7 separate regions of the Homo sapiens genome follow, and regions 2, 3, 4, 5, 6 and 7 are each linked to region 1. The links come from fine-mapping of genetic effects on gene expression. A gene starts in region 1. Each other region holds a variant in brackets. All regions are shown on one strand. Distances are from middle to middle. Region 1 holds the start of TDRP (testis development related protein). Region 2 has its middle 63 kb from the start of TDRP. Region 3 overlaps FBXO25 (F-box protein 25). Region 4 has its middle 78 kb from the start of TDRP. Region 5 has its middle 36 kb from the start of TDRP. Region 6 overlaps FBXO25 (F-box protein 25). Region 7 has its middle 50 kb from the start of TDRP.

Region 1 (4,548 bases):
TGGATCCTGACTTTGTTTTGCAACCTCTGTTTGATAGTTTTTGACTTTCATCAGTTTGTGCTTGCAATGTGCTTATTTTGACAGCACCCCGGAGCCACACCATGCCATCTTGCATTTGCAATTTTCTAAGCCCCCTAGCCCAGGAGGCCAGGCCTATTAGGCCTTGTTTGAAAAGGAGCATATATACATTTTTAACATTCTTATTATTTGCGTGAAGATGAACTCTCAAATTTAGTTTGTACTGGGTGGAGTGGTCCTTAGTAGGCGCCAGTGTTTAATTCTATTTCGTGATGTTTGCGGCCGGTAGGTTTAGCGGTCACCGGGGGAGGGAGGCATGTGGGAGGGGTGCTGCCCTCCTCTCTGGGTGACGGTATAGTTAGGTTAGTATCGTTAGGTTATTATCTGGCTCTTCCCACTCGGCTGGGGGCTCCTGCCAGGCCCAGCCCCCGCCCTCCCTGTGCGTCCCGCGCCAGGGCCCCAGGTCCCCCCAGGCCTTGGGCACGGGCGCCACCCCCTCGGTTCTCCGGGATCCTGGCCGGCATCTCCCAAAGGCAGTTCAGAGCCCCTTTCATCTTAAAAGCTTTGCTGCTCATCACTTCTGGGAAACTCAAAATGTACATTTCATTTTTTTAAGAGTCGTAAAGTTACGAAGCTTGCAGTTTTCAAGGGAGCTCATAGTTCTGGATCCTCCTTCAAAATGCGCTTTTACATGACTGAACACATGAATACATATTTGGTGTAAGAAGCGATACGAAGCGCGTCGCGGGAAAAATTAACCTGCTGGGCGGGAGCGGACGCCTAGAATCCCCCGTTCCCGCGGCTCCGTCCCGGGATCGGGGGTCGCCTCGCCGGCTCCTTTCGGCCTGGGAACCAGGCGGTTCTGCCCTCAGGAATCTGTGGGCGCCTCTCCCGCTCCTGATTCTGACAAAGCCATAGCCACGCGGGAAAACGTTCTCCGGGCCCTGAGCCCCAACCTGGGCGCCGCGGGGGTCCCAAGGGTTCTGCGCGGCCCGGCACCACGGCCCCATCCCCGCCCCCCACCGCCGTCAGTCCGGGCCGAGCCCGCGGCGCCCCAGGCCCCAGCGGCCCCACCGCCCACCAGGGCTGGGCGAGGCTTCCTCCCGGCGCCCCCACTATCCCGCGACCTCGGGCGCCGGAGGGGATGAGTCCCGGATGCCCGGCGCCCAGGCCCCGAGGGATGCCCTGAAGCGCTGGGGTACAGGCGCCGCTCCGCGGACTGTGCCCCCTCCACCTTCCCCTCAGCCTTGCCGCGGCCTGAGCGCCAGCGGCGCGCATGCGCACTGCGCTCCCGGCCGTTGCCTTGGTGACCCGAGCGGACGTGGCCACGCCCTCCGGCCAGGGTCTGGGAAAGGGTGGGGGGAGGGGGCAGTCCGGGAGTAAGTGGGGGTCGGCGGGGGAGAAGGAGAGAACCGGGAGAGGGGAATTTGCGGGGGCCGGGTGGGGGCTCGGGGGTAGAGGAGGACCCAGGGAACCGGGGATAGGGCAGGGCTAGGGGCTCGGTGGGGGCTCAGGATGGGGGCGTTTCCGGGTGAGGAAGCAGCTAGGGGCGGGTAGGTGGGGGTCAAGGTGGGGGGACCAGGTGACGGGGTAGCCTGGGGTGAGGACGTCGTTCAGTAGAACAGTGAAGGGCGAGGGTCTCGCCGGGGCGGTGGCGGGGACCACACTGGGAGGAGGGGGCCGGGGTTGACCTTTCTGTGGGGGATGGGATTCGGAGCCCCGTCGAATTTGGGGGTGGGTCTGGTCCTGGGGAAGGTTTGGGGGCGGGTCTGGTCTTCGGAAGGGTTTGGGGCGGGCCTGGTCCTGAGGAGGGCTTGGAGCGGGCCTGGTTCTGGGGATGGTTTGGGGGCGGGCCGGGTCCTGGGGAGGGTTTGGGGCGGGCCTGGTGGGGAGGGGGCGGGCCTAGTTCTGGGGGTGCCCCGCCCCCGCCTAGCCCCGCCCGGCCCACTGGGCCCGCGTCCCGCAGGAGCCGCAGGCAGAGCGTCCGGCGGCCGGGAGGGACGCGGAGCCACAGCCCGACGCACGGACGGAGGGACGCCGGAGCCCGCCTGACCATGTGGAAGCTGGGCCGGGGCCGAGTGCTGCTGGACGAGCCCCCCGAGGAGGAGGACGGCCTGCGTGGGGGGCCGCCACCGGCCGCCGCCGCCGCCGCCCAGGCGCAGGTGAGGGGGTGCGCAGGTGGGGAGTGCTAGTAGGCCGGGGGCGCGCAGGTGGAGGGCGAGGGTGGGCGGCGCGCAGGTGGAGGTGCGGGTAGTTGGGGGCACAGTTTGGGCGGGCAGGTGAGGTTGGGGCCGCGTAGCTCCGGGGCGCGGCCCGCTAGGTGCCCGAGTGCGGAGTCGGAGAACTTGACCCGAGGCTCGTCCTGGGCTGAGTTGCCGCTGTGGTCCGCGTGGACCCACTCCCCGCTTAACTGGCCAGGGCTGCCGGCGTTCTCGCCGCTTGCAGGGGACCCAGTGCCCCCTGCACGTGTTACTCGGGGCGCAGTCCCAGGAGAGCGGGGACGCAGTGCGCGCACCCCGCGGCGCGGGCGTCGTGGGCCCGGGACGCAGAGGTCCACGCCGGGTGCTCGCGTCCCGGGTGGAGCTGGCGGAGAAGGCCTGAATCATCGCGCATCCGGACGGCCTCCTCGCGGACACTAAGCAGCTTTGGACGACCGTAGCTCAATGTTAAGTGGGCTAAATGTTTGTTTGCATAACAAGTATTTTCTTAAATTCTTGATTTTTCTGAAGGAAGCCGGCAGAAGTCCTTTGTACTGAAAACTGAAAGGCCTTTACCTGACGAGTGTAGAGATATGTTTGGTATGTCTAGAATTTTGTAATTGAAAGGGCTCCCAGGTGGGCCCTGTGTGCCTTAGACGTGCCCTCCCCCACCCCCTCCCCCCCCCTCCCTTTTTCCATTGCAGTGCTCTTTTTCATGTACAATGAAATTTAGGTCAGAAATCCAGCATTCTGGATCATAAAATATCTCTTTCTGTTAAACGTGTGGCAACTTCCTCCTGATGCTGTTAAGGCCGAATGGAATATAAGGATTTGTACCTGTCTTCCGAGGACTTGGAAATAGTTTCTGAGCAGAAGAGTTTCTCTTAGGGTCTGGAGTTGTTTCTTCTTGATAGAGATTTTCTATGAACGTTAAATTCCATTCCTAACTCATGGAAAATGGAGCCGATTATGTTAAGCGCTTAAATATGGTTACTATCTGAACTTGTCTGAGAAATTTCTTTTAGGTAGCGTTAGTGCTTACGTGCCTTTTTTTTTTTTAATTTCAGAATGTTATAGTTACTCTAAACAGCTCTCTTCTTGAATGTAATGATGAGAATTTATATGTGGCTACAGAGTTAACTGCAGAAGCTACAAATAACTAATATTGGTCAAAGATGAGCCATATTATTGTTTCTGGATAGAGCCTTGAGAATTTTAAACTGAGTCTTCCTATGTTCTCCCATTTTTCCTAATGAATCCTGAAACCCACTTTTTTTTCTTAAGTTTTTATTTTTTATTTTGAGACAGGGTCTTGCCCCGTTTACTAGGCTGGAGTGCAGTGGCGCAATCTCGGCTCACTACGGCCTCAACCTGCCTGGGCTCAAGCTATTCTCCTCTCTCAGCCTCTGTAGTAGCTGGGACTACAAGTGCGCACCACCTCACCTGGCTAATTTTAAAAAACCGTTTTTGTGGAAATGGGGTCTTGCTATGTTGTCCAGGCAGATCTGAAACTCCTGGGCTCACGTGATCCGCCCGCCTCAGCCTCCCAAGGTACTAGGATCACAGGCGTGAGTCACCACGCCTGGCCTTAAGTTCTTACTTTGAAAAATTTCTAACATGCGGAAAAGTAGAAGAATAGGAGATTCTTCCTCGTATCCTCCAGCTAGATTCAATTGCTGGCAGTGCCTTCGTTAAAGCTCCTTTTCTGATTTTCCCTTTACACAATTGTCATCTATACTTTTTTTTTTTTTTTTTTGAGATGAAGTTTCGCTCTTGTCGCCCAGGGTGGGGTGCAGTGGCGTGATCTCAGCTCACTGCACCCTCCCGGGTTCAAGTGATTCTCCTGCCTCAGCCTCTTGAGTAGCTGGGATTACGAGCATGTGTCACCACGCCTGGCTAATTTTGTATTTTTAGTAGAGACAGAGTTGTCCATGTTGGTCAGGCTGGTCTCGAACTCATGATCTCAGGTGATCTGCCCTCCTCGGCCTTCTGAAGTGCTGGGATTACAGGCGTGAGCCACCGCGCCTGGCCTGTTATCTGTACATCTAAAGTGTGTGTTGGTTTTGGGGGGAAAAAACTTTAATAGACTCTATTTTTCAGGTATCCAGTTTTAGGTGCCCAGCAAATTTGAGGAGAAAGTACAGAGAGTTCTCATGGATCCCCAGCCCCCCACTATCATCACCCCCACAGAATGGTGCGTTTGTTACAATCTGTGGACCTACACGGGCTCATGGTCCTCACCTGGGAGGGCTCACTCGTTGTGCATTCTGTGGTTTGGACAAATGTGTACTGACGTTTGCCCACCATTGTAGTGTCACACACAGGAGTTTTG
Region 2 (4,548 bases), 63 kb after region 1:
GCACATCCTCCCCAACCCTTGCCTGCTGCTGAGGTCGGGGTCTGGGGTGCTCTTGGTGGAGGAGATGCAGCTTTCAGGCCTGCATCCCAGCTCTGCATGCAGCCCCTGCCACCTCCCACCCAAGTGCCAGGAAGCCACTTTGTCTCCCTCCATTCTACATGAAAGCACCTTCCCAAAGCTTCTCTAGTGTTTCAGGGTCTTGGCCCAGGGTGGTGCTTCCACTGGGACATGGTCCCCAGGGTTTGTAGGGCCCAGGTTTGGGTCCCGTGCCGGCTGCCACCCAGCCCCAGATACCACGGCTGCTTCCTGTGCAGCCACCGCATGACAGCCCCCCTCACAAGATGCCCACAGGAGATGCCCGTGTGACAGCTGCACTGGCTCCTTCCATGGCTGAGCACTGGGCCCAGGGAGCAGAAGGCACTGGAAGCAGAAGGGAGGAGCCCTGCCCTGGCAGCATGTGCCAGTGGGGTTCTGAAATGCCCTCCCGTTTACATGAGAAAAGTCGGGGGGTGTGGTTGGTGTGGGCCTTCTGAACTTCAGTTCTTGGATTTCTCATTTTTGTAACGCGAGTGCTATCTATGCTATAACATTCTTAATACTCTTTAAAATTGATTCACTTTAAAGAATTGCTTGCTGAGGAAGCTGGTGGGTGAGGACAGGGTTGCGGATGGTGGGAGGCCCTGTGAGGAGGGGCGAGGGGCTTCAGGGCTGGAACTGCCGAACAGCCAGTGGAGGGGCCAAACCTGGGGAGCGTGGGGCAACTCGTGTGGGAGGTGTTCTCGGGCAGGCTCACCTGCAGCGTCTTTAAGCATGCGCTTTCATAGAATCCTCTTGCAGATCCTGGGGCACCTGTGCCGCCAAGAGTCCTGCTCACCTGGCTGGCTCCTTGGTGCCCTGACCCATGGCTCTTCTCACCTGTGTGCCACCCCCAAGAGGCTTCTTCTTTCTTCTGAAACAGGCCCTCATCTGTGAACCACTGTCCATTGTGGTCCCCTCCTGTTCATTTTGTTCATTTTCTGCTCTTCTCTTGCTTGTTTCTCCCTTGACGCCATAAAGTCAATTTCTCGGTCTAAATCCTGGTTCTCAACCCTAGAGAGGATCAATGTCCCCATATCAACAGGAAGTAGAGCCAGTGACATTTCTACCTCACCCAGAGTGAGGACCAGGTTGGTTGTGTGAGGTGAAGCAGAGCTCTTGCGGGGGGCTAGTGTCATACCCCTAACCCCGCCTTCCATTAAGGCCAAAGCTGGGCCCTGCGGGGCTTTGTCCCATGGCCAGACGTTTTCATCAGAATTAGGTGCTGTTTTCTTCATTGTGTGGAGAGTGGATTTGATGGAAGAAGGTCATGTAATTGGGGGAGGGGGGAGCCAAGTCTCTAGACAGAGTAGGAAAACTAGTGGGGTATTGAGTTTTGGAGACATTTCTAGGGCAACAAGGTATCTTTAGGAATTTGGTCCATGGCAGCCTTGGGCAGATGTTTAAAAAAACAGACTTGTACCTGGAATTCGCTTTTAAAGTCTGCCAGCTGCCCAGGGTCATAGGTTCATTTGCCCAGGCTCCTGCATATTCTAATTTTATCCACTGAGGCCCAGGACACATGGAGTCTCTGCTCAGTCTCTATCCTTAGAAGGAAGCTTCAAGCCGGGCTGTCAGAGCCGACGGTAAACACATGATGAATGTCCCCGCCGCCCTGAACCGTCTTCCTGAGATTCTGTGTGCCTGCCCACTCTTCCTTGCAGAGTCTGAAAGTGCATTGCAGCGTGTTCCTCCGGCTCCCAGAATCGGACATCCGTTTCATCTTGGAGGAGCACATCCTGAATAAAGGTTATTCTAATTTTAACAGCAGCAAATGCTAAGCTCAATGGTGAACTAGAAGGGCCATCTCCCAGCAAAGCCTAATGCATCTTAGGAATGTGTGACCATTTATTTTTTGTTTTTATTAAAAAACCTTTTTAGAGACAGGGTCCTGCTCTGTCACCCAGACTGGAATGCAGTGGCATGATCAGGGCTCAGTACAACCTCCAACTCCTGGGCTCAAGTGATCCTCCTGCCTCAGTCTCCCGAAGTGCTGGGTTGTAGGCCACTGCACCCAGCCATTGTGACAACTTAGTGATTTTTCCCTTAGTGGCTCTGACACAAGAAGCAGACAGGACAGGATGGGGTGGAGGCTCATGGTCACAGTTTGAGTTTTTTCTCCCTTTAAAGTATTTTCCATTCCTGAGGCCAGTGGGATGAAGGAAGGGAAACAAATCACACTTAATCCTCAGATAGTGGTTAATTCTCATAATTAACCAGGTGTATTTCAATTTGGCTTTTTCGAGATGGGGGG[G/C]TTGACAAGCATTTCAGTTTTTAAATTTTTTTATGATGAAAAATAAAATCTATGCAAAAGTATGTAGTACAATGGACATCCATAAACTCAGCTACTGCGATTCAATAATGGTTGTATTTGTCATATTTGCTTTGTGTGTCCATACATATATTTAACCATTTAAAAGTAAATTACGGACACCGTATCACCCCCAAGTACTTCAACATATATTTCTAAAAAAAAAAAATGATGCTGCCTGCATAAGTAAATATGATTGGCACACCTAACAAAATTAATTTCCTGTATCATCTAATACATATATATATGTTCCCAATTGTCTGGAATGTACCTTTTAGCTGTTTTTTCCCAAAACCATGATCGTGCATCATATATGGCTGTTCTATCTCTGAAATCTTTTGATGTTGGAAACAGGAGCCCCCTGTCTCCCTTCCCTCGCAGCTTTTCCTGAACACACTGCTGTTTGAGGTGTTCAACTCACTCCTCCATCCTTAGCACTGCCTACAAACAAGAAATTGGATCTAAAGGCTCGGTTAATCCAAGCTGCTGCTTCCTTTCGGGGCAGCTCCTGGGCCCCTGTGCACAGCAGGGCCACATAGTGTCTGACATCCACCATTAGTGGTAACATTAGGCTCAGGTGGTAACAACTGGATCTTTAACCTGGCTCCCCTTATTCCTTAAGCATCTCTCAGTTGTGCCCTCTCTACGCTTCTCGAGGGCTGTGTCCTGGCACCTCTTCTGCAAGCAGAGAGCCAGGGATGTGGCCCGCCACCTGGGACAGGTACCTGCTGTACTCCCTCTCAGATCCAGAAAAGAGGTCATAGCAGTGAAAATGCAGGTGAGACCATTTGATTCCACCCCCCAACCCGCCTGCAAATGTAAGCAGCTTTGTGGGAGGAACTAGTAAAAAAATTTGCATGGGAATTGGAAACATCCTAACCACCTTGAGATCAGACGACACTGCTCTGTTTCCATGCTACAGGGATCCTGTTAAGTGTGACCTGTGTCACAGACCATCGCCTTCCCCTCGGTAGATGCTGAATTGAGGAGGAAGGAGAGGAGAGCTTGAATGAAGGCTGCATTAGTGCACGTGGCTCACATAACAGCCAAGATGCTACAGAGCCCCTTGCTTTCCTCACTAAGGGGTAGCATGATTGTGTGACCTTTGGTTATAAAGCTGTGTGAAACTCAGTAAGTCAAACTTAATTCAAACTTCAAGCCATTGGAACTTTACTCTGGCCTCCAAAAGGGAGGAGGGAAGGAGAAAGGGGACAAGGGTTGAAAAGCTACCTATTGAGCACTACATTCGCTGTTTGGGTGATGAGTTCAAAAGTAACCCAGACCCCACACCATGCAACATACCCATGTAGCAAAGGGGCACATGTGCCCCCTGAAACTAAAATTTAAAAAAGCACTCAAAAAATATTGAGTCTTGGAAGGAATGCAGCTATGCAGCTGGAGCCACGGAGCATACAGCTGCAACCTCTGCCTTTCTTTCCCTATAAACGACCAAATGCATCAGAGATGAGGCCCCTGAGATCACTGCTCCTCACTTTGTGGAGTGCAGCCATCTGTAATGGGTCATATTGCCATAGCGCACACACTGGTCTGTGGAAAACGGCAAGACTCTGCGATATCTCGGCTCCTGCCTATATGAGTGAAGCCTTAACTTTCCACTGTGGAACGCTGACCCTGTTTGTGTAGAGCCCATCCCCCAGGTGGCCATCCTCAAAATGTGTGCTTGAATGTGCTAGACACTTCCCCGTATTTTCTGAGCCTCTTCATTTAAGGCTGACAGCTGATAAAGTTGCACCAGCTGTCCATCAGGTAGATGAGAGTCCAGGGCAGTGCCCAACTCTGTGTAGACATGGGGGCCCCAGAGAGGTGCCTGTCTGGGTTATGTACAGAAAAACCGGTTTGCTAAAGAAGCTGGTGTTTTGAAATGTGACACTTAAGTTTTTAGAGGGAAAATGTAGTAATTGGGGAGCGACCGCACCTCCGGCTATCCCCACGCATGGCTATCCTTTCAGCCACACGTGTGGCACAGTGTGTGCGCCGTCTGCTGGAAGAGCAGGGTTTGGGGAAGAGGTTAACAGATAAGCAACATGAATGGCGCTGAGCCCGTTGGAGGGGCACGGGCAGTCCTGAGTGAATGTTACATAGGAGAGCCAGGGTTGATGTGGCTGCAGCCTCGTCTGCTCTCACACCAGCAGGTGAGTGTT
Region 3 (4,000 bases), 110 kb after region 1:
TATTCATAAGTGGGAGCTGAACAATGAGAACACATGGGCACAGGGAGGGGAACATCACACACCAGGGCCTGTCGGGGGGTGGGGGGCTAGGGGACAGATAGCATTAGGAGAAATACCTAATGTAGATGACGGGTTGATGGGTGCAGCAAACCACCATGGCATGTGTATACCTATGTAACAAACCTGCACATTGAGCACATGTATACCAGAACTTAAAGTATAATTTAAAAAATTTAAAAAAAAGTCATATGACGCATTTAAGAAAGTCACTTAATTTACATCAGAGGAAAATCAAAGTTTATAGACTTAGGAAATAAAGTCGTAATGAAAAAGCTCTTCACGGCTGTCAGGACAGCTACGTTTTTGGTCTCTGTCCTTGACTCCATTGTGACCTTCAGCCCATCTCTCTGGGCCCCATTTTCTTGTCTTTACCTCTTGGGTCATAAATGGATCTCCATGCAGCTGTCATCCCTCTGCCTAAATCCTCCTCAAAAGAAAATCAAAATAGTGGCTAACACAGAGTACAGACTGTTCCAAGAGCTTCCTATGATGGAACTAATCTAATCTTTCTAACAGTGCTCTGAGGTAGATGCTAAAATCTACCAGATACTATGGATGTGATGATGAAGTCATATGCTTGAGATCCCTGAGTAAATAAATAAGAAAGAGACAGAATTCCAACAACGGCTGTGTGGCTGCAGAGCCTCTCTCCCTCCCTGCCTCACCCTCGAGTCCCCGCCTGGGAGGGCTCAGGGTCACTCACTAAGCATCTTTCCCATGCGCTGCTGTGAGGCTGCTGCTATTAAGTTGCTACTATGGAGTAGTCATTAGTAGAAATTATGAAAAAATTTGAAAAAAAATCTTCATATAGCCAGAGATTCTAGCCTGAGATGTCTTTCCTTATTTGCTTATTATTATTTGTAAAAACAGGGTCTCCCTATGTTGCCCAGGCTGGCCTCAAACTCCTGGGCTCAAGTTATCCTCCTGCCTCAGCCTCCCAAAGTGCTGGGATTGCAGGCATGAGTCACCGCACCTGGCCACCTTTCCACATTTAAGAGATCCTTGGGATACTGAGAAGCAGGAGTCCATCTCCAGACATGAGGAGCAGGTGGGCTAAAGGAAACAGGACTGGGGAGTCTTGGAGGGGCAGAGCAATGCCCAGGGACACAGAAACTTTTGAATAAAGATAAGAGAGACCGACTCTTCGCCTACATCTAAAGCAAATGAAAACATAAAAATAAATGATGGCAAGAAACTAAACTAAAAATACAGTACCCCTGGAAGTATGTGACACTGGATGTGCTATCTAATTGGTCCACCACAGGCAGAGAATGAAGTACTTCAGATAATTTATCAAATAACCAAAATTAGATATATAAACTTTACGATTCTGAAAACTTTTTTCCTACAGATGTGTGTACTTTAGGAAACAGAGCATATTTAACATTTTTATAAATTTCAGTTGCACACCGTGCAGCTTTCAGGAAGCTTTCACGCCGTGCACTGCCCTGCATGGACCTCCCAAGCCTCGGGCTGTTCGTGCCTGGCTGTCAGAAGCCACCTCCTGGCTGCCAGAGGGGCGAGGGGGCAGGCTGTTCTTCTCAGTGCTATAAGCAAGCCCAGGACTCCAAGGGAATGATAACAAATGTGTAAAAACCACAGTCACATTAACCTATAGGATCAGGACCCAGTTCTACTTCCTCCAGACAGCTTTTGGGTACTGGTCTCCCTCTCTGTGTTTACAGCTGTCCTGGGTTTGCTGGGCACCTCTGAGTTCATGGAAGTGCAGCTCCTCACTGCAGTTGGGACACACTTACTCCACTTTGACAAAGGG[G/C]GTGTTGTTTTCAGCAGTGGGTGAACAGCAGTGAACAAACCAAGCCCCTGCTCCTGGGGCTCAACTGGGATGGGGACGCAGACAACTTAAACACGTGGCCACTGGCACACCTAAGGGCCAGGGAATGCTGCTGACATGATGGGGGCGGTGAGGCCAAGGTCCCAGCCAGGTAGGCTTGAGTTGGTATTGCCACAACCCTGTGATCACTGGCAAAGAAGATTTCATGGTGGGAGTGTGACTAGAACTGGATTTCAAAGTTTCTTGAAAGTTAGAAAAGCCAAGGTACGTTGATCTGCACACAGGAGGTGCTCAGCGATGCCAGCACTGATGGGCTCCTCCTGCCTTGAGTGAAGAGCATCTGCCCCTGGACAGTGAACAAAAGGTGGGGCCATTTTATGCCTCCAACAGGACATCTGGCTCAAACTCAACTTCAAAGATTAGAGTAAAAACGAAACTTCCATTCCAAACTACTTAACTTTATTTTGGCAACTGGAAGAATCTGTAATTGAACACTAAATTCTACTACTAACTTTTATCCTAAGACTGTGTAGTAATTATTGATTAGTCTCAGTTTAAAATTGCTGTTTAGATGGAAAAAATGATTTTACATAAAACATTAGTTGAAAGATACAGGCTGGGCATGGTGGCTCACACCTGTAATCCTAGCACTTTGGGAGGCCGAGGCAGGTGGATCACTTGAGGTCAGGAGTTCAAGACGAGCCTGGCCAAAATGGCGAAACCCCATCTCTACTAAAAATACAAAAAAGAATTAGCCAGGCATCGTGGTGCATGCCTGTAATCCCAGCTACTCAGGAGGCTGAGGCAGGAGAATCACTGGAACCCAGGAATCAGAGGTTGCAGTGAGCAGAGATCGTGCCACTGCACTCCACCCTGGGCAACAGAGTGAGACTCCATCTAAAAAAAAAAAAAAGATACACATTAAGTTTTTCACACAAATTCTTAAGGGCAGATATTACTAAATGCCATTAGAAAAAAAGGAAACCTTTTATCAAGCATTTTAAAAAAATGCTTCTACATTTCTTATTTATAGGTATTCTAATAATACTGAGTGACATTATGGACAACTTAGACTAAATTATGGAAAATCAAATTATTTAGTAGAACTACAAGACAATCCTCTCAGTTGTTGTAGTAAGTGTTGCCATAAACATTTAAAACAGCAAAAAAATACCAAATACCTGCACAGTATGTATGATAAATGCATACGATAAAGTAAAAAAAAAAAAAAAATAGCACACACTGAAAGAAAGCCAACAGAAGAGGGCACTGGGCATGGGCCAGGGAGGTTAAGAATTGGGATGGGGACATGGAGGAGCCCAATCCAAGGCAAGACACAGGCTCAGGCTTTACCACAGTCACAAAGGCTGCTTCTTGTTTTTGTTTTTAGCAGAAGGTAAGCATGAGCAAATCACTTTTTAGAGGTAACTTTGCTGGACTTGTGAAGAATGGTGTGCAAGGTCCAGAGCGACTTCAGGAGAGGGAAGGTGGGATTCCCACAGAGCAGGAGCACAGATGAGCCAAGCAAGGCCCTGCTTGGAAGGCAGCAATCAACAGAGATGCACAGACCTGTGAGGGTGCTGGGACAGCCATGCAACACTGCAGCCCTTTTGCTTCCTGAGCTCACCAGTTCCCTCGCTCCACATCTGAGAGGTGCTTTGGAGAAACACAGCCCTTCTCAAGAGGGTTGCAAAGTAAGCTTAGTTGGTACATGAGTGCACAGCACATTTTAATTTTTATAGTTATGCATTTATATGTATTAGACAAATGACCGACAGAAAATTTACCATTTCACAGGTATTAGTGTTTAGGATGAGGCTAAAGTAGGTATTTCTGTTTAGAAAAGTAAATTTGAAGAAAAGCTACCCAGCAAATTATAGTAGTATGTGGTACACAGACAAAAAAAAAATTATGCAGTCGTCCAAATGACTGAAACTGATAAAATGCTGGTCCTGGTCTATGGATGCCCCCTCTGACAAAGCACAGAATACTCGCACCTTCTCCAGAGTCAGTGACCAAAGATGAGACAGCAGGGCACCCAGCACAGAAACCACCAGGAGCCAACGACTTCCTCCTGTGCTCCATCCTACTCTCTCACTCACACCAAGAATTAAATCCTTTTATGTAGACAGATGGTCAAGAATTGCT
Region 4 (4,548 bases), 79 kb before region 1:
CTTCCTGTCTCTGTAGATTTGTCCACTTCTGTGGACGTGTCCTGTAGACAGGCACGACACTACCTGGCCTCCTTTGTCCGGCTTCTTTAACTCAGCGTCGTGGTTTCAGGGTTTATTCCTGCTGCAGCATAAACCACTGCTTTCCTTTTTGTGGCTACTATTCCATTGTTTGAGTAGATCATGCTTTATTTATCTATTCATCGGATAGGAAGCATTTGGGTTGTTTCTGCTTTTGGGTGATTGTGAATGACTCTGATATGGTTCGGATTCGTGTCCCCACCCAAATCTCATGTAGAATTGTAATCTCCGATGTTGGAGGAGGGAGCTGGTGGGAGTGATTGGATCATGGGCGTGGAATCCACCTCGCTGTTCTTGTGGCAGTGAGTTCTCAGGAAGCCTGAGTGTTTAAAAGTGTGTAGGCCGGGTGCAGTGGCTCACGCCTGTAATCCCAGGACTTTGGGTGGCCGAGGCAAGCGGATCACGAGGTCAGGAGATCAAGACCATCCTGGCTAACACGGTGAAACCCCGTCTCTACTAAAAATACAAAAAATTAGCCAGGCATGGTGGCGGGCACCTGTAGTCCCAGCTACTCTGGAGGCTGAGGCAGGAGAATGGCGTGAACCCGGGAGGCAGAGCTTGCAGTGAGCCGAGATCGTGCCACTGCAGTCCGGCCTGGGTGACAGAGCGAGACTGTCTCAAACAAAATAAAAATAAAAATAAAAATAAAAAATATAAAAAAAAAAGTGTGTAGCGCCTCCCCCTTTACTCTCTTCCTCCTGCTCCAGCCATGCAAGACGTGCCTGCTTCCCCTTTACCTTCTGCCAGGATTGTGACTTTCCTGAGACCTCCCCAGCCATGCTTCCTGTACAGCCTGCAGAACTGTGAGCCAATTGAACATCTTTTCTTTAGAAATTACCCAGTCTTAGGTAGTTCTTTATAGCAGTTCAAGAAAGGACTGATACAGACTGTGCTGTGAGCAATCACGTACAAGCTTTGGCGTGAATGTGTTTTTGTTTCTCTTGGGTCTGTGCCTAGGAGTAGAACTGCAGGTTCGTGTGGTGACTCTGTGTTCACCTTTTTGGGAAATTGCTGGACTGTGTTCCACATGGTTGCACCATCTCACATCCTTATCAGGAAAGTATGCATTTCCTTGGTTCCTCATCTCAGTGGTTCCGATATCTTCACATCCTCTCCAATCTTTACATCATCTATCTTTCTCATCTAGCCATCCTCACAGGTTTGAGCTGATGTCTCATTGTGGTTTCGATTTGCATTTTCTTGGTGGATAATGAAGTTGAACATCTTTGCGTGCGCTCATTGGCCATTTGCATGACTTCTTTAAAACCATGTCTATTCAAATCCTTCACTAATCTGCAGTTGGGTTTTTTATTATTGAGTTGTAAAAGTTATTTATTTATTTTGGATATTAGTCCCTCGTTAGATTAGATATATGATTTGCAAATATTTTCTCCCATTCTGTATGTTGTCTTCTTTATTAGTGGTATCATTTGCAACAAAAAAGTTTTAATTTTAATGTAGCCAATTTATCTACTTTTTTCTTCCATTACTAGTGCTTTTGGTTCATATCTAAGAGACCATGGTCTGATCCAAGGTCATGAAGACTTATACCTGTGTTTTCTTCAGACAGTTTTATAGTTTCAGTTATGACACTAAGGTCTGTGGTCCATTTTGAGTTAGTCTTTGTGTTAGTGTAGTGCAAGAAAGGGGTTCAACTTCATGTTTTTGCATGAAGTCCACTTGTTCCAGCATCATTTATTTAAATGACTGTTCTTCATGCACACAAAATGGTAATTCTGTGAGGTGATAGATGTGCTGATTAGCTTTATTGTGGTAATTATTTCACAATCTACACATATATGAAAACATCCTATTGTATAACCTAAATATATACAATTTTTATCATTGATACCTCAATAAACCTGGAAAAAACAAAAATTTTTAAATTAAAAAATAGAAGACTATTCTTTCCCTTTTGAGTTGTTATAGTATTCTTGTTGAAAATCAATTGACCATAAACATAAGCATCAGGCTGAGGAGGTTTCCTTCGATTTCTAGTTTGTTGAGCATCCTTTTATTATGAAAGGGTGTTGAGTTTCCTCAAATTTCTTTCCTGCGTCTATTGGGAAGCCACATGGTTTTTGTACTTTATTCATATGGTGTCTATTACATTGATTGTTGCCAAACCACCCTTGAATTCCTAGGATAAATTCCATTTACTCATGGTGTGTAATTCCATTTATGCATTGTTTTAAGTTGTTTGCTAGTGTTTGTGTCTATATTCATAAGGAATATTAGTCTGTAGTTTTCTTTTGATATCTTTGCCTGTTTTATCTCTCGTCATACTGTTCTATAAAATGAGTTGGGAAGTGTTAAACCCTCTTCTGTTTTTTTGGTAGGATTGGTATTGACAGTATTGGTATTGATTAGTATTGATGTTTTATTTATTTATTTATTTATTTATTTATTGAGAGCGGATCTCCTCTGTTGCCCAGGTTGGAGTACAGTGGTACAATCATGGCTCACTGCAGCCTTGAATTCCTGGGCTCAAGCAATCCTTCCACCTCAGCATCCTGAGCTGCTGGGACCACAGGTGTGCACCACTACACCTGGCTATTTTTTAAAAAAATTTTTTTATAGAGACACGGTCTCACTATGTTGCCAAGGCTGGTCTGAAACTCCTGGGCTCAAGTGATCCTCCCA[C/T]CTCAGCCTCCCAAAGTTCTGGGATTACAGGTGTGAGCCACTGTGCCCTGCCTTTTTAAATGTCTGATAGAATTTGCTAGTGAAGCTGTCTGGCTTGGGTTTTCAAGGGTAGTCTGTTTGGACTGTGATATCAAAATACCTCAGACTGGGTGCTTTATAAACAGCAGAATTTATTGGTCACAGTTCTGGAGGCTGGACAGTCCAAGATCACGTCACCACCAGATTTAGTATCTAGAAAAGCTTCGTTCTCTGCTTCATAGATATGGTGTCTTCTCACTGCATCCTCAACGTAGCAGAAGGGAAGGCAGTTCTTGGGGGCCTCTTTTATAAAAGCATTAATCCTATTCATTTTCACAGGGCCCTCATGACCTAGTCACTCTCCAAAGGCCCCACCTCCTAATAACATCACCTTTTGCTGATTGAGTTTCAACATATAAATGGGGGGTGGATACAAACATTCAGACCATAGCAAGGAATTTATTTATTTATTTTTATTTTTCTGAGACAGAATCTTGCTCTGTCACCCAGGATGGAGTACAGTGGCACAATCTTAGGCCACTGTAATCTCAAACTCCTGGGATCAAATAGTCCTCCTGCCACAGTCTCCCAAGTAGCTAAGACTACAGGTGCACATGCCACCACGCTTGGTTAATTTTTTTCATTTTTATTTTCTGTAGAGGTGTTGTCACTGTGTTGTCCAGGCTGGTCTCAAACTACTGGCCTCAAGGGATCGTCATGCCTTGGCCTCCCAACGTGCTGGGATTACAGGCATGAGCCACCACACTCAGCCACAAGGAAGTTTTAACATTATTTAATCTCTAATTGTTTTAGATATATTTCCTTTTGAGTTGGTTTGGGTAGTTTATGTTTTTCTAGGAATTGTATTTAACTTTGTTGGCTCATAATTGTTGATATTATTCACTTATAATCCTTTTTTACTTTTATAAGGTCATTATTTTATAAGATGTCCTCCCTTCCATTTCTAACTTTGGTAATTTAGTCCCTCTCTTTCTTTCGTAGTCTTTCTAAAGGATTGTCGTTTTGTCAGTCTTTTCAAAGAACTAACCATTGGTCTTGTTGATTTCTCTATTGTTTTTCTATTCTCTGTGTCAGTTATTTCTGCTCTAATCTTGATTATTTCCTTTCTTCTGCTGGTTTTTAGTTTGCTCTTCTCTATCTCCTTTCTCTTTTTAATTATTTAATTATTTTAATTATTTAAAAAATTTTTATTAACATATAGTTGACAAAAATTACATATATTTACTGTGTGATGTTTGATACATGTATACCTTGTTAAATGGTTATATCAAGCTAATTAACATATCCATCACATCACACACTTATCTTTTGTTGTGAGAAATTTTTCTAGTGTCTTAAGGTAGAAAGGTTATTGATTTGAGAGTGTCTTTTTTAATATAAGCATGTATAGCTATAACTTTTCCTCTGGGCACTGCTTTAGCTGCAGTCTATAAATATTGGCATGATGTGCTTTTATTTTCATCCTTCTCAAGTTTTTTTCTAATTTCCCTTGTAATTTCTTCTTTCATCCATTAGTTATTTAGGAGTGTATTGTTTAATTTTCACATATTTGTGAATTTCCCAAGTTTCTTCCTATTACTGATTTTTAATTTAAGTCTATTGTGCTCAGACAATATACTTTATGATTTCAATCCTATTTAAAGGTATTCGAGTTTATTTTATGGTGTATGCACCATATTGTCAGTCGTGGAGAACGTTTTATGTGTACTTGAGAATATGTATTCTGCTGTTTTTGGTGAAGTGTTCTGTAGATGCTGGTTAAATCTAAGTTTATTTAAGTTTTTATTT
Region 5 (4,548 bases), 36 kb before region 1:
TACAGTCTTAGTACTGGTAAACAACCTTATCTCCTCCTTTCTAATTTGTATGCTCTATGTTGTTTCTTTTATCTAATTTCATGCACTGATGCCTCCAGTATAATGTTATTCAATAGTGCTGGTACTGGGTATTTTTGGTTTTTCTTGATTCCAGTGAAAGTACTAACCAACAAGCAAATTAATATTTCATATTAGATATGTTTTTAATAGTAAATATTTATCTCATTTTATTCAGTATTAAGGAATGTTTTAAAAATATGTTTACCACAATTCTGAAGATGATGTAATTTCTTCTCAGAATTATTAATATGATAAATTGTAATAATAGATACTCTATTTTAGAACCATCCTGCCATTCCTTGATCACCTTGCACTATTTTAAATGTGCTACTGTATTTCTACATTTTTCTTTTTCTCTTTATGTATTTATTTATTGCTTAGACCATTCTCCATAACAGACTATATTTTATTTACGTTTTTATTGATATGTATAGGTGAGATTGGGGACGACTTGTAGTTTTCTTTTTGGTGCAGTCTTTTCAGGTTTTGGTCACTAATGTTATTCGCTGTGTAGAAAAAAAATTGGAGGTTTACGTTCTTTTCCGTTGTTCTGGAAGAGTTTTTTAAATTATTGGAATTATCCGCTATTTAAAGTTTGTTACAATTCTCCCATAAAAATGTTTGCACCTGTTGCTTCTGGGTGTCGGTGGTGAGCACCTCTTTTTTAAAATAAAGTGACTAACTTAGATTTTCCGTCTCTTTTGAGATCCATTTGGTCCATATTTTCTTAGAAGATCGTCCATTTTTCTAGGATTTCAAGCTGATTTGAATAGCGTTGAGCAGGTGGTCTCATGATGCTTTTAATTTCATCTGTTTCCTTGTTATTTTTACCTCATCATTCCTTATTTTGTATACTTGTGCTTTTTCACCTTGTATTCTTGGCAACATTATCTATCAATTTATCTTGCTTTATTTTTCAAAGAATCGGCTTTCTAATTTGTTTGTTAGTCTACCTGTTATCTTTTTTCCTACTGTATTAGCCTGTGCTTCTCTCTTAGCTCCTTCCTTCTGGTTTCCTTCAGTTAATTTTGCTGTGTTGTTTCTAATTGTTGAGTTTGATGCTTAATTAATCAATTTTCACTCATTCTTTTTTATTGCTATAAGTGTTTCAAACTATGAATATTCATCTTCTAGCTGGATTTTTTGATGACTTCAATAAATTTGTTCTAAGATGCACATGAAAGCAAAAATGCCTATTAGTAGATGTAGTAACTCTTTCATTGGAGATCAAGGCAGGAAAATAACCTACCAATAACAAGCCACAGTACACAGCCATGGCATCAAAAGATTAGAGACCGATTATCGTTGAGGCTGCAGACGGACACATGGGTTATTTATACTACTCTCTTCTGTTATATATTAAAATTTTAATGATGAATTTTTAAAAATTAACTATAGTACTGATGTAGGAACATCTTCGTAGATGAAGGGAAAGGAGGGTTCAAAGTAGATCCACGTAAATGATGAAGAGGACATTACAGGACAATGGGAGAATGACAGTTTGGCCAGCGGTATTTAGAAAATCACAATGTGGATAAAACTGGTCCTACATTACAACATTTAAGCAAAGGTAGATTCCAGATAGGTTAATTTCTTAAATAATAAAAATGAAACTGGGAGCCGGGTACAGTGGCTCATGCCTGTAATCCCAACATTTTGGGAGGCCAAGATGGGAGGATCATGTGAGCCTAGGAGTTTGAGAGCAGGTTGGGCAACATAGACCCCATCTCCAAATTTTAAAAAAATTAAAAAATATTTTTTTAAAAACAGACAAGGACAATAAAAGTAAGGATCTTTGTAGGTTGGGAAATATTTTTTCAAACAAGAATCCCAAAGCAGCATCCATAAGGTTAAAAAAAAAGATAGAATTTTATGTCAACATTAATAATTTCCACTCAGTGAAGTCTATGGTAGGCAGAGTTCATAAACCCATCCATGCAGGGGGAAAATACTTACAGTGTTTCAGACAACCAGGATTATATTTAAAATATACAAGGAGTTCCTGCAAGTCATCAAGAAGCAGGAAACCCAACAGAAGGATGTA[C/G]GAGTGCTATGGATGAGTATCTGTGGTGAGATGTGACCCTCCCGGAGCTGCTGGGTCCCTGCTCCCAGAAGCTGTGGAGATGAGTCAGGGCACAAGGGCCTTTGCGGAGGTTCTGGGTGGGTGCCTGGAGAGGAAAGGAGCCTGGTTGATCCGGATGGGCCTCGGGCTGTTCCTGGGGCCGTTGCAGAGGGAGGCAGGGGCCTTGCCCAGGAACGTGGGGCCTCACCCAGGAATGTGGGGCCTCTGGGAGCTGGGAAAGGTGAGGAAGTCAGCTCTTCCTGGAGCCTCCGGAAGGAACGCCCCCCTCCCGACCCACGTTCAGACTTCTGACCCCAGAACTGCGGGAGAAGATAAGTGTGTGTGTTTAAGCCACTGCATCCGTGGTCATTTGATAGCCACCACAGGAAGCCAGTTCAAGAGACACAAGCACCATGTGTGTGCTCATAACCTCAAAGTTACTGCAAAGGAGAGAAATGCAGATGAAAACAGTGAGACACCACTTTACACCCACGTGTCTTGAAAAGCCCGTAAAGTCAAGCCCTGAATGCTGGTGAGCACAGTGGAGCGGCAGCACATCCGGCATGTGGGCGGCGGTCAGGTGGGAAGCATGGGCAGGTGCCGCGTGGCAAGCGGGTCCCCCGCAGCAGTGAGAGGCAACCTGCAGGCTCCCACAGCACCACGGACAGATACGCCAAGCGGAATGGAGAGAACAGAGTTAGAAGACAGTGGAGTTGAGAGCCCAGTGCTGCTCACAACACACCCAGGCACGAACACTGCAAAGCCACTCATCAAACGCTTCCTGAACCTGCACTTAGCCTGGGATGTGGGTGACCAGGCAGCGAATGGGACACTGAGTTCCCAGCCTGCAGTGTTGACAGGAGCACAGGTGAGCACAGGGCCAAGCACACAGGGACTGAGACATGAGGAGGGAGTACAGGCAGCCCAGGTGAGGCTGCACCAGCAAGTGAGGAGAGGCTTCTGGGGAGCACCACGGAGTGCCCTGAGTGGCCCTCAGACAGGAGGAGTAAACACACAGGACCAGGACCACCATGCCTGACGGGCCTCAGGCAGTGCATCTATGGACGGAGCCTCCCCACAACTGACACGCTATGCCTGAGTGACCCCCGCCATGCTGACTGGCATGTTGAGACCCTCAATGGCACTGCCACTCATGTCACCGGAGGGCACCTCCATCACCTGTGCCCAGCTGGGCTCCGTGCTGGGGGTGGTACTGAGTCCTGGGCCCTCTGGGAGCCGACTCTGGCACTCAAGCACACGTGAGCCGGCATGCTGGTGTCATGAGGAAGCCATCACCTGGCCCCGACCAGACATGGCCCGGTCACTCTGGGGCTTATATCCCTTCAGCGGGGACATAGAGATGCCAAGTCCATGCTCCCAACCAGGGACCAGGTGAGGGACACAGCGTTCGGTGCATGGCACCAAGGTACCTGGCACCGTCATGTCCTTGGTCCCATGTGCTGTGGGGAAGTAGCGTCCACACCATGGAGGGAGGGGTCCCAAGCAGACCCATGTCTTGAGCTGAGTCATTGTCCACACTGCCAGGGCCACAGGGCCCCATGGATCCACTCTCCTTGCTGGAGTCTCTGCTTGGGGCTGTGGCAGATGCTCTTCTGAGGCTCGGTAGCTGCTCCCTGAGAGGAGCGGCTGTGCCAGCAGCATCAGAGCTCAAGGTCGCTTGGGTTAGAGCTGCATTCCACGGGCTGCTGTCCTGTGTCTTTGCCAATCCCATTTCCATTAGTGTCTGCTGCACTCCACAGCCCTGTGCCCATCAGAGGCCTTCGGTCGCCTCACGAAGGACCCTGAGGAAGTGCAGGGCGATGGCAACCACGGAGCCACAGTGGCTGTTTCTAACTGCTCCAGCCACGGGGCGCTTTGAGGCCACACGGCCCACGCTTCTCCAACGGAAGAGACCAAAACTAGGAGGGGAAGGACCATGATTCAAGATACAGTGTGGTCTGGGCAGCGAATGTGTTTGTTAGCAAGGTCCAGTTCGGGAGAGGAACGATTTTTACCTGAGTTTAGTACCCACAGCTGGAAATGTGGGTGTTCATGGCGAGGCAGCCATGTGCTGCCACTTCACCTGCCGAGGGACAGGGGTCTGGAACGATGCCTTGAACAGTCTCCTGTGGACTTCAGCAAACCTGGCGGGGTGTTTGGTGGGAGGGCAGGGGCGGGGGTGCACCCAGCATGGTCTATGCCTGGTCTCCAGCGCTCAGTGTCATAGAGGACATCTGGTGACTTTCCAACTCGTTACGATCAATTTTCCTTCAATAGCCACAACGAAGCTGTTAAGCCCCAGAGGATGATCCTGGCAGCTTGTGGCACTTTGGGCTTTAAAATCAGTCACATATCCCAGTGGCTTTCACAGTAATTTAAAGGACTGTGCCGAGGAAAGTGTTTTGACGACACATGAAACATGTTCC
Region 6 (4,000 bases), 100 kb after region 1:
TTTTAGAGTCTGTGAATTGCATCTGCCTCTTATTTCTCTGAAAATGGAGTTTTTTCATCCCTTCCTTCCAATTCTCCTTCCAGCCTTTCTTGATTTCCAGAATGAGAAATCACTAAGTCACATACTGAGCCACAAATAACATTATAAATGTGACAATTACATGATAATCTTTGGGGGAAAAAACATTCTGTGATTTCTAACATATTTACATAAAAATATCTTACACTAAAACACACCAGTTGAGGGCACTGGCCAGAGATAAGATCAGGTTAGGCCAAGCAAAGCTGAGAAGACCAATGTTAAAATTTCAATCCTGTTCCTTTATCTTTTCAAATTAACTGAATATTGTTATTAAATTCCTTGTTTTAGTGTTGAATAGCACCCCTTTTCCCTGCCTCACTTTAGAATCAATTTAGAGACAAAGGATTCAGGCCAACTGAGGTTATCAGCATTATCGCTAATAATAGCTGGACTGGCGGATGCGATTCAGATTCACACAACAATGGATTTCCTAATCTGAATCCTAGACTGAGATGAAGCCAGCCAGCCGTAAGCACTGCTTAATAACCAAAGCCTCCCCAGATAGGCTTCTTGCCCTACAGCACTAAGACATGAAAGAAACAGACCAAAATGTACAAATATCTTTTATTCCTCAAAGGAAAAAGAAGAGTTACACATGCCTGTTTCTCACCAATAAGAGGGGTCAGGGCAGAGTGAGTCTGGGAGAGAGAGTTCTACCACCACGGTTCCCAAAGCATCGTCTAGGGGCCTGTTAGGGGAGCCCGAGGTCTAAACTATTTCCACAGTTTCACTAAGATATGATTTTCCTTTTCCATCCTCACATTCGTTAGTGTGCAGTGAAGTGCTCCAGAGGCCCCAGCATGCTACATTACAGAAGACTGAACTCAGGAGAGATGAGGAATAATCCCCTCCATCCCACCAGACACCAGGAGGGTGTGCCAAGGTGTGAGACATACAGTCCGACATGCTACATTATGGAAGACTGAACTCAGGAGCAGAGATGAGGAATAATCCCCTCCATCACACCAGACACCAGGAGGGTGCCAAGGTGTGAGACATACAGTCCTTACTGTTTTTTTGTTTTGTTTTGTGAGACGGAGTTTCACTCTTGTCCCCCAGGCTGGAGTGCAATGGCGCGATCTCGGCTCACTGCAACCTCTGCTTCCTGGGTTCAAGCGATTCTCTAGCCTCAGCTTCCCCAGTAGCTGGCATTATAGGTGCATGCCACCATGCCCGGTAGTTTTCTGTATGCCTGGCTAAGTTCTGTATTTTTAGTAGAGACAGGTTTCACCATGTTGGCCAGGCTGGTCTCAAACTCCTGATCTCAGGTGATCCGCCCACCTCGGCCTCCCAAAGTGCTGGGATTATAGGCGTGAGCCACTGCACCCAGCCCAGTCCTTACTTTTAAATAAATGGAGAAATATTTTTAAAAGTGTTTTAATTTCTAATGTGGCAAACATTAATAGATATAACTCACATGACCAAAATCTCTTTGGGGTCCTCAGTAATTTTAAAAAGTGAAAAGGACCCCTGAGACAACATTTGGGTTTGGAACTGCTGCTCCACTAGGGGAAGAAATACCAGAACAGAGAATATGTGTTCCCTGGGAGATAAGGTCTTCCCGACTACCTCCCCTCCTATCATCGAAATAAGTTTTCTACATTTCTTTAATATCATGTTTTAAAATTCCTTTTAAAAAGACTGAAATCAGCAGCAGAAGGCAAGGGATTAGCTTAGCACGGTCAGTTTAGACTAGTTACCCACAGAGGACTACAGAATGGACATCACGAGGCATAGGTAAGCATAGAGGTGAGAAGGGCCGTGTTCACAGTTGACAAGATTACATTTCAGGTTAAACTGGTAATTAAGATAACAGGGCGAAAGACAATTAACAAAGAAACTGTAATCATTCATAAGCCTCTAATTAGCCATAAAGCAAAGTCTGTTGGGAATTTAATGAACATTTGTTAAAAACACAAATA[T/C]TGTAGGAAGTTTTTTATACAGTCATGGGTCGCTTAACAAGGGGGATACAATCTGATCCGAGAAACGCATTGCTAGGTAATTTCCTCACTGTGTGAACATCACAGAGTGTATTACACAACACCTACACAGCTAGGCTACAGACCTATACAACATATTAATGCACTGAACAGCAACTGTAACATAATGGCAAGTATCTGTATATCTAAATATATCTAAACATAGGAAAGGTACAGTAAAAAAAGGAAATAATCTTATGTGGCCACGACACTACACGCGGTCGGTCATTGACCAAAACATCGTTATGTAGTGCATGACTGCGTATCTCCTCAAATCTGACAATTCTAAACAAGTAAAGATGTGGAAGAATTAGATAAAGAGAAAGAAAGTACATCCTTCAAATAGAGAATCTGTATTTTTTTTCACACATCAATAGAATATTTATAAAAATCAATTATAAAGAAGGCCACAAAGGAAAACTTAATCATTTCAAAGAATTAGAGATCTTAAAGGCCAAACTCTCTGGTGGTAATATAATAAAACTAGAATCCAATAAAGTTAAATAAAATCACAGCTATTTGAAATTCGAGGTCCACTCCTGAACACCCTTGGATCTGGGAGTAAATTGGCACTGCATGTGTGCCTGTGCTCCTGAAGGGCCTCACATACATGGGGAAGGGCAGAGAAAGAGAAACAACAACATCCACTACCTCTATTTTTAAAGTCAGCCTTACTACAAAATACAGAAAGTATTCTTCACTGGGCAGACCAAATCAACTTTGCTCAATCTTCGCCTTTGGGTTCCTTCAGATTTATAATGAACTGTAAGCATTTACTGAGTGATTATTAGAAAGGCACCATCTGAAGTACCTGATGCCCTTTCAATGCTGTAATGCCCCTGTGAGGTAGGTCTTACTATTATCCCTGCTCTAGAGATGAGAAAACTGAGGCAGGGAGAGATGAAGAAGCTGGCCCCAAGGCCACAGCACTGAGGAGGGAGGGGCCAGACCTGAAGAGCAGGGGGATCCCACAATCTGTGCTTGTGCCTTCCTGCTCTGCTGCTTCCCAGCTAGCCTGTGTGCTGGACACAGCCCTCAGTGATCTCAACTTTGATTATCTAATTTTAAAAAGACTTCTCAAGTTTATTGTCTTTTACAAAAAAGGGATGTAATCTAGCAAGCCAAAGCAGAACCAAGCAGACTTTGTAGTTTTCATCAATTTTCTGGACGCTCCAGCCACTTTCCTCAGGTCCTTTAGCAATGTGTGGACTGCCCGCCCACCGCTGCCCCGAGGTAGGGAAGCACCACACTACAACCTCATGCAGGCTGGATTAAAACATGCCCTCCACTTCAGGCTTAGGAACCAGCGCCCCTCCTACAGCTCACAAGTTGCTCAAGCAGTGGTCTGTGAGAAGTCATTCTATTTTTGGGGTTGTCCCTTTTCTCTGCTTTTCTTGGGAACCATTTTGACTCTGTCAAATGTTCACTGACTTCTAGCACTGGCAGAAAGAACGTCTGCTTTTTTATCTGAAACTAAACTGTTACACAACTTATAATTTTATTTTGGTAAAAGCATTCTTAGTTGCTGTGTTTAGTCATACTCTACAAATTATCTTGTTGGTAGGATAAATATGGTGAGAATTAAAGAAAAATGAAGATGGTAGTGGATATTTGCAGACTATTATCAATACCGGCATTTCAAACTTCCAATATAATTCGGATACTTGCCTGGAGGACAAACTTTTTTTGGCATGCCGTATAATGAGGAGCCTTATATTCCCAGTGTGCTCAAACTGCCCTGACACCACCTATCCACCGTCGTCAGCAATCTATGTTCAATTTTTCTTAAAAACATCAGTTACAAGGTCAAATTTAATTCAACTGAGGTCAGACTCTCAGCGGAGCTGAGGAGCACTTCCTTCAATGGAAATGGCCATTTCTGAGTGGTGACAACACTGTCATTTCTTGGACCTTCTTTAACAAATCTGTTCTCAGGAGCG
Region 7 (4,548 bases), 50 kb before region 1:
ACTTCTAGGAAGGGACCACTGTTCTAGCCACATACTTCCTAACGGAAATAAGAAAGACCCTTGGACGATCAGGCACATCGAAGGTCCAGCCATGGCGTCCCTGAGGCCCCCACTGCCTCAGCTCCTAAGGCTCTGGCCACATTTCCCTGTGTCTCCCTGCTCCTCACCTTCAGGGCTGCCTGAGTTACCCTGTGTGGAAGGAACCCTTTGAGACCTGCAATGTCTGGAGACGTCGCCATTCTCTCCTTGACCTTTTCTTTCTGGGACCAGGATTCTAGGCTGCAAGAAATGTCTCTCAGAACTGAGAAGGCTTCACTTCCCGCCCTGCAGACTCCAGCGTTCTGTAGGGAGGTCTCAGCCATTCCAGTTCTGCCACGAGAGTGCTGGGGCCTGTGGCTCTGGCCCCTGGGCTGCTGGTGAGCTCTGCCTGAAGTGTCTCAGCAATGAGGATGTGGATGACACAGGTGTTTTTACTCTGTTCTTTCATGCATGCGCTACTCTCTCAATCTGGGCTCCTGTCTGCAGTTCTGGACCACTTGTTTGAGTTATTTCTTTGCTGGTCTCTCCTGTCTGACCTCTCTGGTCTCTCTTCTCATTAAGTGGGTATTGGAATTTCTGGGTTGATTCTCTATTTCTTTTTTCATTCCTCCCTAATTCTTCATCTGTGCATCTTTTTATTCTGTTTCTGTGAGATGTAAATGAGTCTAATATTCAACATTTCTATTAAATTATTTATGTCTATTCTACTTTTAATTGAAAGATTCTGTGTGTAGTTTTGCGGTGTCTGCTCTTATTTCACGGCCACCCTGTTTCTCTGCGAATATCATAGGTTTGTCTGCGTCCTACTCCCTCCATCCACTCGGCTTCCTCCAGGTTTCTCTCTGGGTCTGTGTCATGTTAGGGTCTCCCTGGGTCTCTGGCCTGCATCCTCCACACAGACCCCCCACCCCAACCCACTCACATGCAGGAAGCAGCCACATGTGCTTCCAATGGGAGTGGATGGTGTGTGGGGAGGAGATGCAGCCGGGCTCTTTCCCATAGAGGTTTCCTCCAGTCATCTGCATCCCTCTCCTGAAGGCCTTGCTGGGCATCCCTGCTGTCCTGTGGCCTTCCTGGGTTCCACTAACTGCTCAGGCATGTCCTTCAAGACTGGAGTTTGTGCTGGTGGCAGGGCACTGCAGCTCTCCCATGGTATTCCAAGACTGCCTGCACGTTTGCCATTAGTTCTTTTTTGATTATTGCTTTTCAATAGCAGTTCCTTAATTAAACTTTTCTCGATTTACCAAGCTTGAGCGTGTCATGGATTTCCTGCTGGGACCCTGGCTGATAACAGCTCTGCAGCCAAGTGCCCAACAGCTCTGCAGCCAAGGCCCAACAGCTGTAGGAGGCGTATGGGGGCTTGCTTACGAGTGGCCCTCACCTCACAGCAGTGGAGATGGCCCAGTTCTTCCACTGGGGACTCCTAAGTCCAAAGACTGCATTTGTAGATTTTCCCTCCACAGCCAAGAGAGAGGTCCTTTAATTCTTTGACCTCCTGCCTGGGGGTATGAGCCTGGCCTTTGACATTCTGGGAGCTTGGAAGGTGGGTGAGGTATCCCACTCTCCACAGGGGGGCTCCACTCACCCCTCTCAGCAAGGTGTCCTCCACCCTCACTGCCCAGCTGCCCCTGCATGCCTGAGGTGCCTCACAATCACCCGGGCTCCTTGACACCCCTGACTTCTGAGGTTTCCTGAGTCTGGCGCAGATCCCCTGGGTGGTAGCTGGGCTTCCCTGTTCCTGCTTTACCTGAGATTGCTCAGTCCTCCCTCCTGGCCGAGTCTTCCTGTCTTCTCCTCTCTGAGCTTTGTTTTTATGCCTTTTCAATCACTTTATTGCCCTTTTGATTGACAGGTGAAGGAGCAAAGATGGGAGGTCTCTGTCTCTCCATCCTTAGCCCTGCTTTGCTTTAGAGCAAAGATATTGTTGGTTAAAAAAAAAAAAAGCCCTTATCCTTGAGTGATG[A/T]CCCCCCAGTGTTTAGGAGCAGACGTAGAGAGAAGAGCAGCTTGAGTCTGAGCCACCCAAGGGGTGGACAAATGGACTGGGGAAGGCATCAGGAGCTCCTTGCACGAGGTCCTCTTGTTGTTCTTGTTCCTGTCACTCTTGGCTGACGAAGAACCAAGAAGGAGACTTCCATGATGACCCCGGAGAGAACCACAGTGACTGGCAGGAGGCAGGGGAGGTGAACAGGCCCTTCTCACCAGGGACCCTTGCCTGGCCTCACAGGTCCGAGCCTGCTCCCACGACCAGGTCAGCCAGAGGTGTTTACATGAGAGGGAGAGTGAGGAACACCAGTTTCCGAGGTCCCGGCTGACCTTGACGGTGAGCAGAGGAAGGTTCTCAGGGCCTCAGTGGCCCTTGGAGAACCTGCACTCTAGGGCTCATAGGAGGCACCGCTCTCTTGGAGGCCATGGTGGTGATGAAATGCTGCTTCAGGGGCCTTCTCAGCAACCCATGCCAGTGCCAGGCCTGTGTGGAGGAAGAAGGGAGAGAATGATGAAGGTGAAACCAAGGAGTTGTGCTTAAAACGTCCCCTCACTGAGCTCTCCTCACAGTACTCACTCACATCCCTCCCCTCACAGCGCCCCCTTCACATCCCTCCCCTCAGGGCGCTCCCTTCACATCTCTCCCCTCACGGTGCTCCCCTCACAATGTTTGCTCACATCCCTTTCCTCACAGCGCCCCCCTCACATCCCTCTCCTCACGGTGCTCCCCTCACAACAGTCCCCTCACAGTGCTCCCGTCACAGCACTCTGGCACAGTGCTCCCCTCACATCTCTCCCCTCACGGCGCTCCACTCACATCTCTCCCCTCACAGCGACCCCCTCACATCCTTCTGCTCACGGCACTCCCCTCACATCCTTCCCCTCACGGCGCTCCCCTCACGGCGCTCCCCTCACGACGCTCCCCTCACAGCGCTCCCCTCACATCCCTCCCCTCATAGTGCCCCTCTCACATCCCTCCTCTCAGGGGCTCCCCTCACATCTCTCCCCTCACAGCGCCCCTTCACATCCTTCTGCTCATGGCACTCCTCTCACATCCTTCCCCTCGTGGCGCTCCCCTCACAGCGCCCCTCTCACATCCCTCCCCTCAGGGCGCTCCCCTCACATCTCTCCCCTCACAGTGCCCCCTCACTTCCTTCTGCTCACGGCACTCCCCTCACATCCTTCCACTCATGGCGCTCCCCTCACATCCCTCCCCTCACTGGGCCCCCCTCACATCCTTCCCGTCAGGGCGCTCCCCCCACATGTCTCCGCTCACGGCGCTCCCCTCACAGCACTTGTTCACATCCCTCCCTTCACAGGGCCCCCCCTCACATCCCTCCCCTCACAGAGCTCCCCTCACAGCGCCCCCTTCACATCCCTCCCCTCACAGAGCTCCCCTCACATCCCTCCCCTCACAGTGCTCCCCTCACAGCGCTCTGGCATAGCGCTCCCTTCACAGAGCTCCCCTCACAGCGCCCCCCTCACATCCCTCCCCTCACAGTGCTCCCCTCACAGCGCTCTGGCGCAGCGCTCCCTCACATCCCTCCCCGCGTTCCCTCACAGCGCTCCCCTCACAGAGCTCCCCCCTCACAGCGCTCCCCTCACTGCCCTCCTATCACAGTGCTCTGGCAGGTCTAGAGTCAAGGTGCCCAGGACATTCCAGCCTCCAATGTGTTCCTTTTTATTTATTTACTTTTTGAGACAGGGTCTTGGTCTGCTGCCCGGGCTGGAGTGCAGTTGCGTGATCTCTGCTGACTACTGCCTCAGCCGCCAGGGTAGCTGGGACCACAGGCACCGCCGCGCGCTCCTGGCTTATGTTCTTTTATCCTCCTCTGCAGTACTCTTTCCTCTTCTCCCTCTCAAACCCAGATAGATTACAACCCTTGTTCTCTCTGCTTTCGTTCGGGATATCTCCTGTCTCCAAAATCGTAGAACTGACTCATAAAATATGAGAGCCAGGAAAGACTTTAAAGACAACCTCATCCTGTGAATTTTGGCACCAGATATGAACCTGAAACCTTAAAGTTCCCAACACTGCAATGGGTCAGGCCCTGCTGCGCTGGTGGAGATAAAACGTACTGAGCAGAGGAGAGAAGCTAACAGCATCGGAGAAGCTGACTGGGCTTCAGGGCTACGTGCTGAGGGGAGCAGCTGGGTGCAGAGCCTCGGGAGTAGCCTGTGTGAGAGAGACAGAGAGACAGAAAGAGGAGGAGGAGAAAGAGAGATAATCTGTTATTATGTACCACAAATGTAGCCTCCTCTCAAGATTTTGGGAGAGATTTCAGAAAAGATACATTTGGCTTTTTTCCTTATTTGACCCTTTTTTGTCCTTGTTAGTTACTGCTCTGTGTCACTGCCTTTCCAGATGGGATTTTTCATGCTGACAAATAAATTGTGAACTCCTGGGGGCGCCCTCCTCGCTTGCATGCGGATGTCTGGCTCCCATGCATCTCCTCCAGACCTGGCTGCCTGCTGCTGTGACCTCCACGGCTTTGTTCTTCATGAGTGTGTTCCATCACAGTTCCT

The links.
Region 2: its variant is fine-mapped to the expression of TDRP in whole blood (TOPMed, PIP 0.98).
Region 3: its variant is fine-mapped to the expression of TDRP in whole blood (INTERVAL, PIP 0.96).
Region 4: its variant is fine-mapped to the expression of TDRP in whole blood (TOPMed, PIP 0.97).
Region 5: its variant is fine-mapped to the expression of TDRP in whole blood (INTERVAL, PIP above 0.99).
Region 6: its variant is fine-mapped to the expression of TDRP in lung (TOPMed, PIP 0.97).
Region 7: its variant is fine-mapped to the expression of TDRP in whole blood (TOPMed, PIP above 0.99).

The regions. Positions count from the first base shown.
Region 1 is chr8:542,282-546,829 of GRCh38, reverse strand. TDRP (testis development related protein) reads left to right here and starts at 1,996. Exons shown (of 3, transcript NM_001384899.1): 1 at 1,996-2,180. The coding sequence starts at 2,073. RefSeq lists an enhancer at 517-1,017.
Region 2 is chr8:479,399-483,946 of GRCh38, reverse strand. No RefSeq gene overlaps it. Among named protein-coding and RNA genes, the nearest start is that of TDRP, 63 kb to the left of the region's middle. RefSeq lists enhancers at 3,899-4,398, 4,399-4,548. The variant G/C (reference allele first, on the strand shown) is at 2,330.
Region 3 is chr8:436,825-440,824 of GRCh38, reverse strand. The region is part of intron 5 of FBXO25 (F-box protein 25); the gene reads right to left. Among named protein-coding and RNA genes, the nearest start is that of FBXO25, 32 kb to the right of the region's middle. The variant G/C (reference allele first, on the strand shown) is at 1,835.
Region 4 is chr8:620,896-625,443 of GRCh38, reverse strand. It overlaps a transcript of ERICH1 not described here. Among named protein-coding and RNA genes, the nearest start is that of TDRP, 78 kb to the right of the region's middle. The variant C/T (reference allele first, on the strand shown) is at 2,722.
Region 5 is chr8:578,156-582,703 of GRCh38, reverse strand. No RefSeq gene overlaps it. Among named protein-coding and RNA genes, the nearest start is that of TDRP, 36 kb to the right of the region's middle. RefSeq lists an enhancer at 4,290-4,548. The variant C/G (reference allele first, on the strand shown) is at 2,105.
Region 6 is chr8:442,984-446,983 of GRCh38, reverse strand. All of the region lies in intron 5 of FBXO25 (F-box protein 25), which reads right to left. Among named protein-coding and RNA genes, the nearest start is that of FBXO25, 38 kb to the right of the region's middle. The variant T/C (reference allele first, on the strand shown) is at 2,004.
Region 7 is chr8:592,073-596,620 of GRCh38, reverse strand. No RefSeq gene overlaps it. Among named protein-coding and RNA genes, the nearest start is that of TDRP, 50 kb to the right of the region's middle. The variant A/T (reference allele first, on the strand shown) is at 2,003.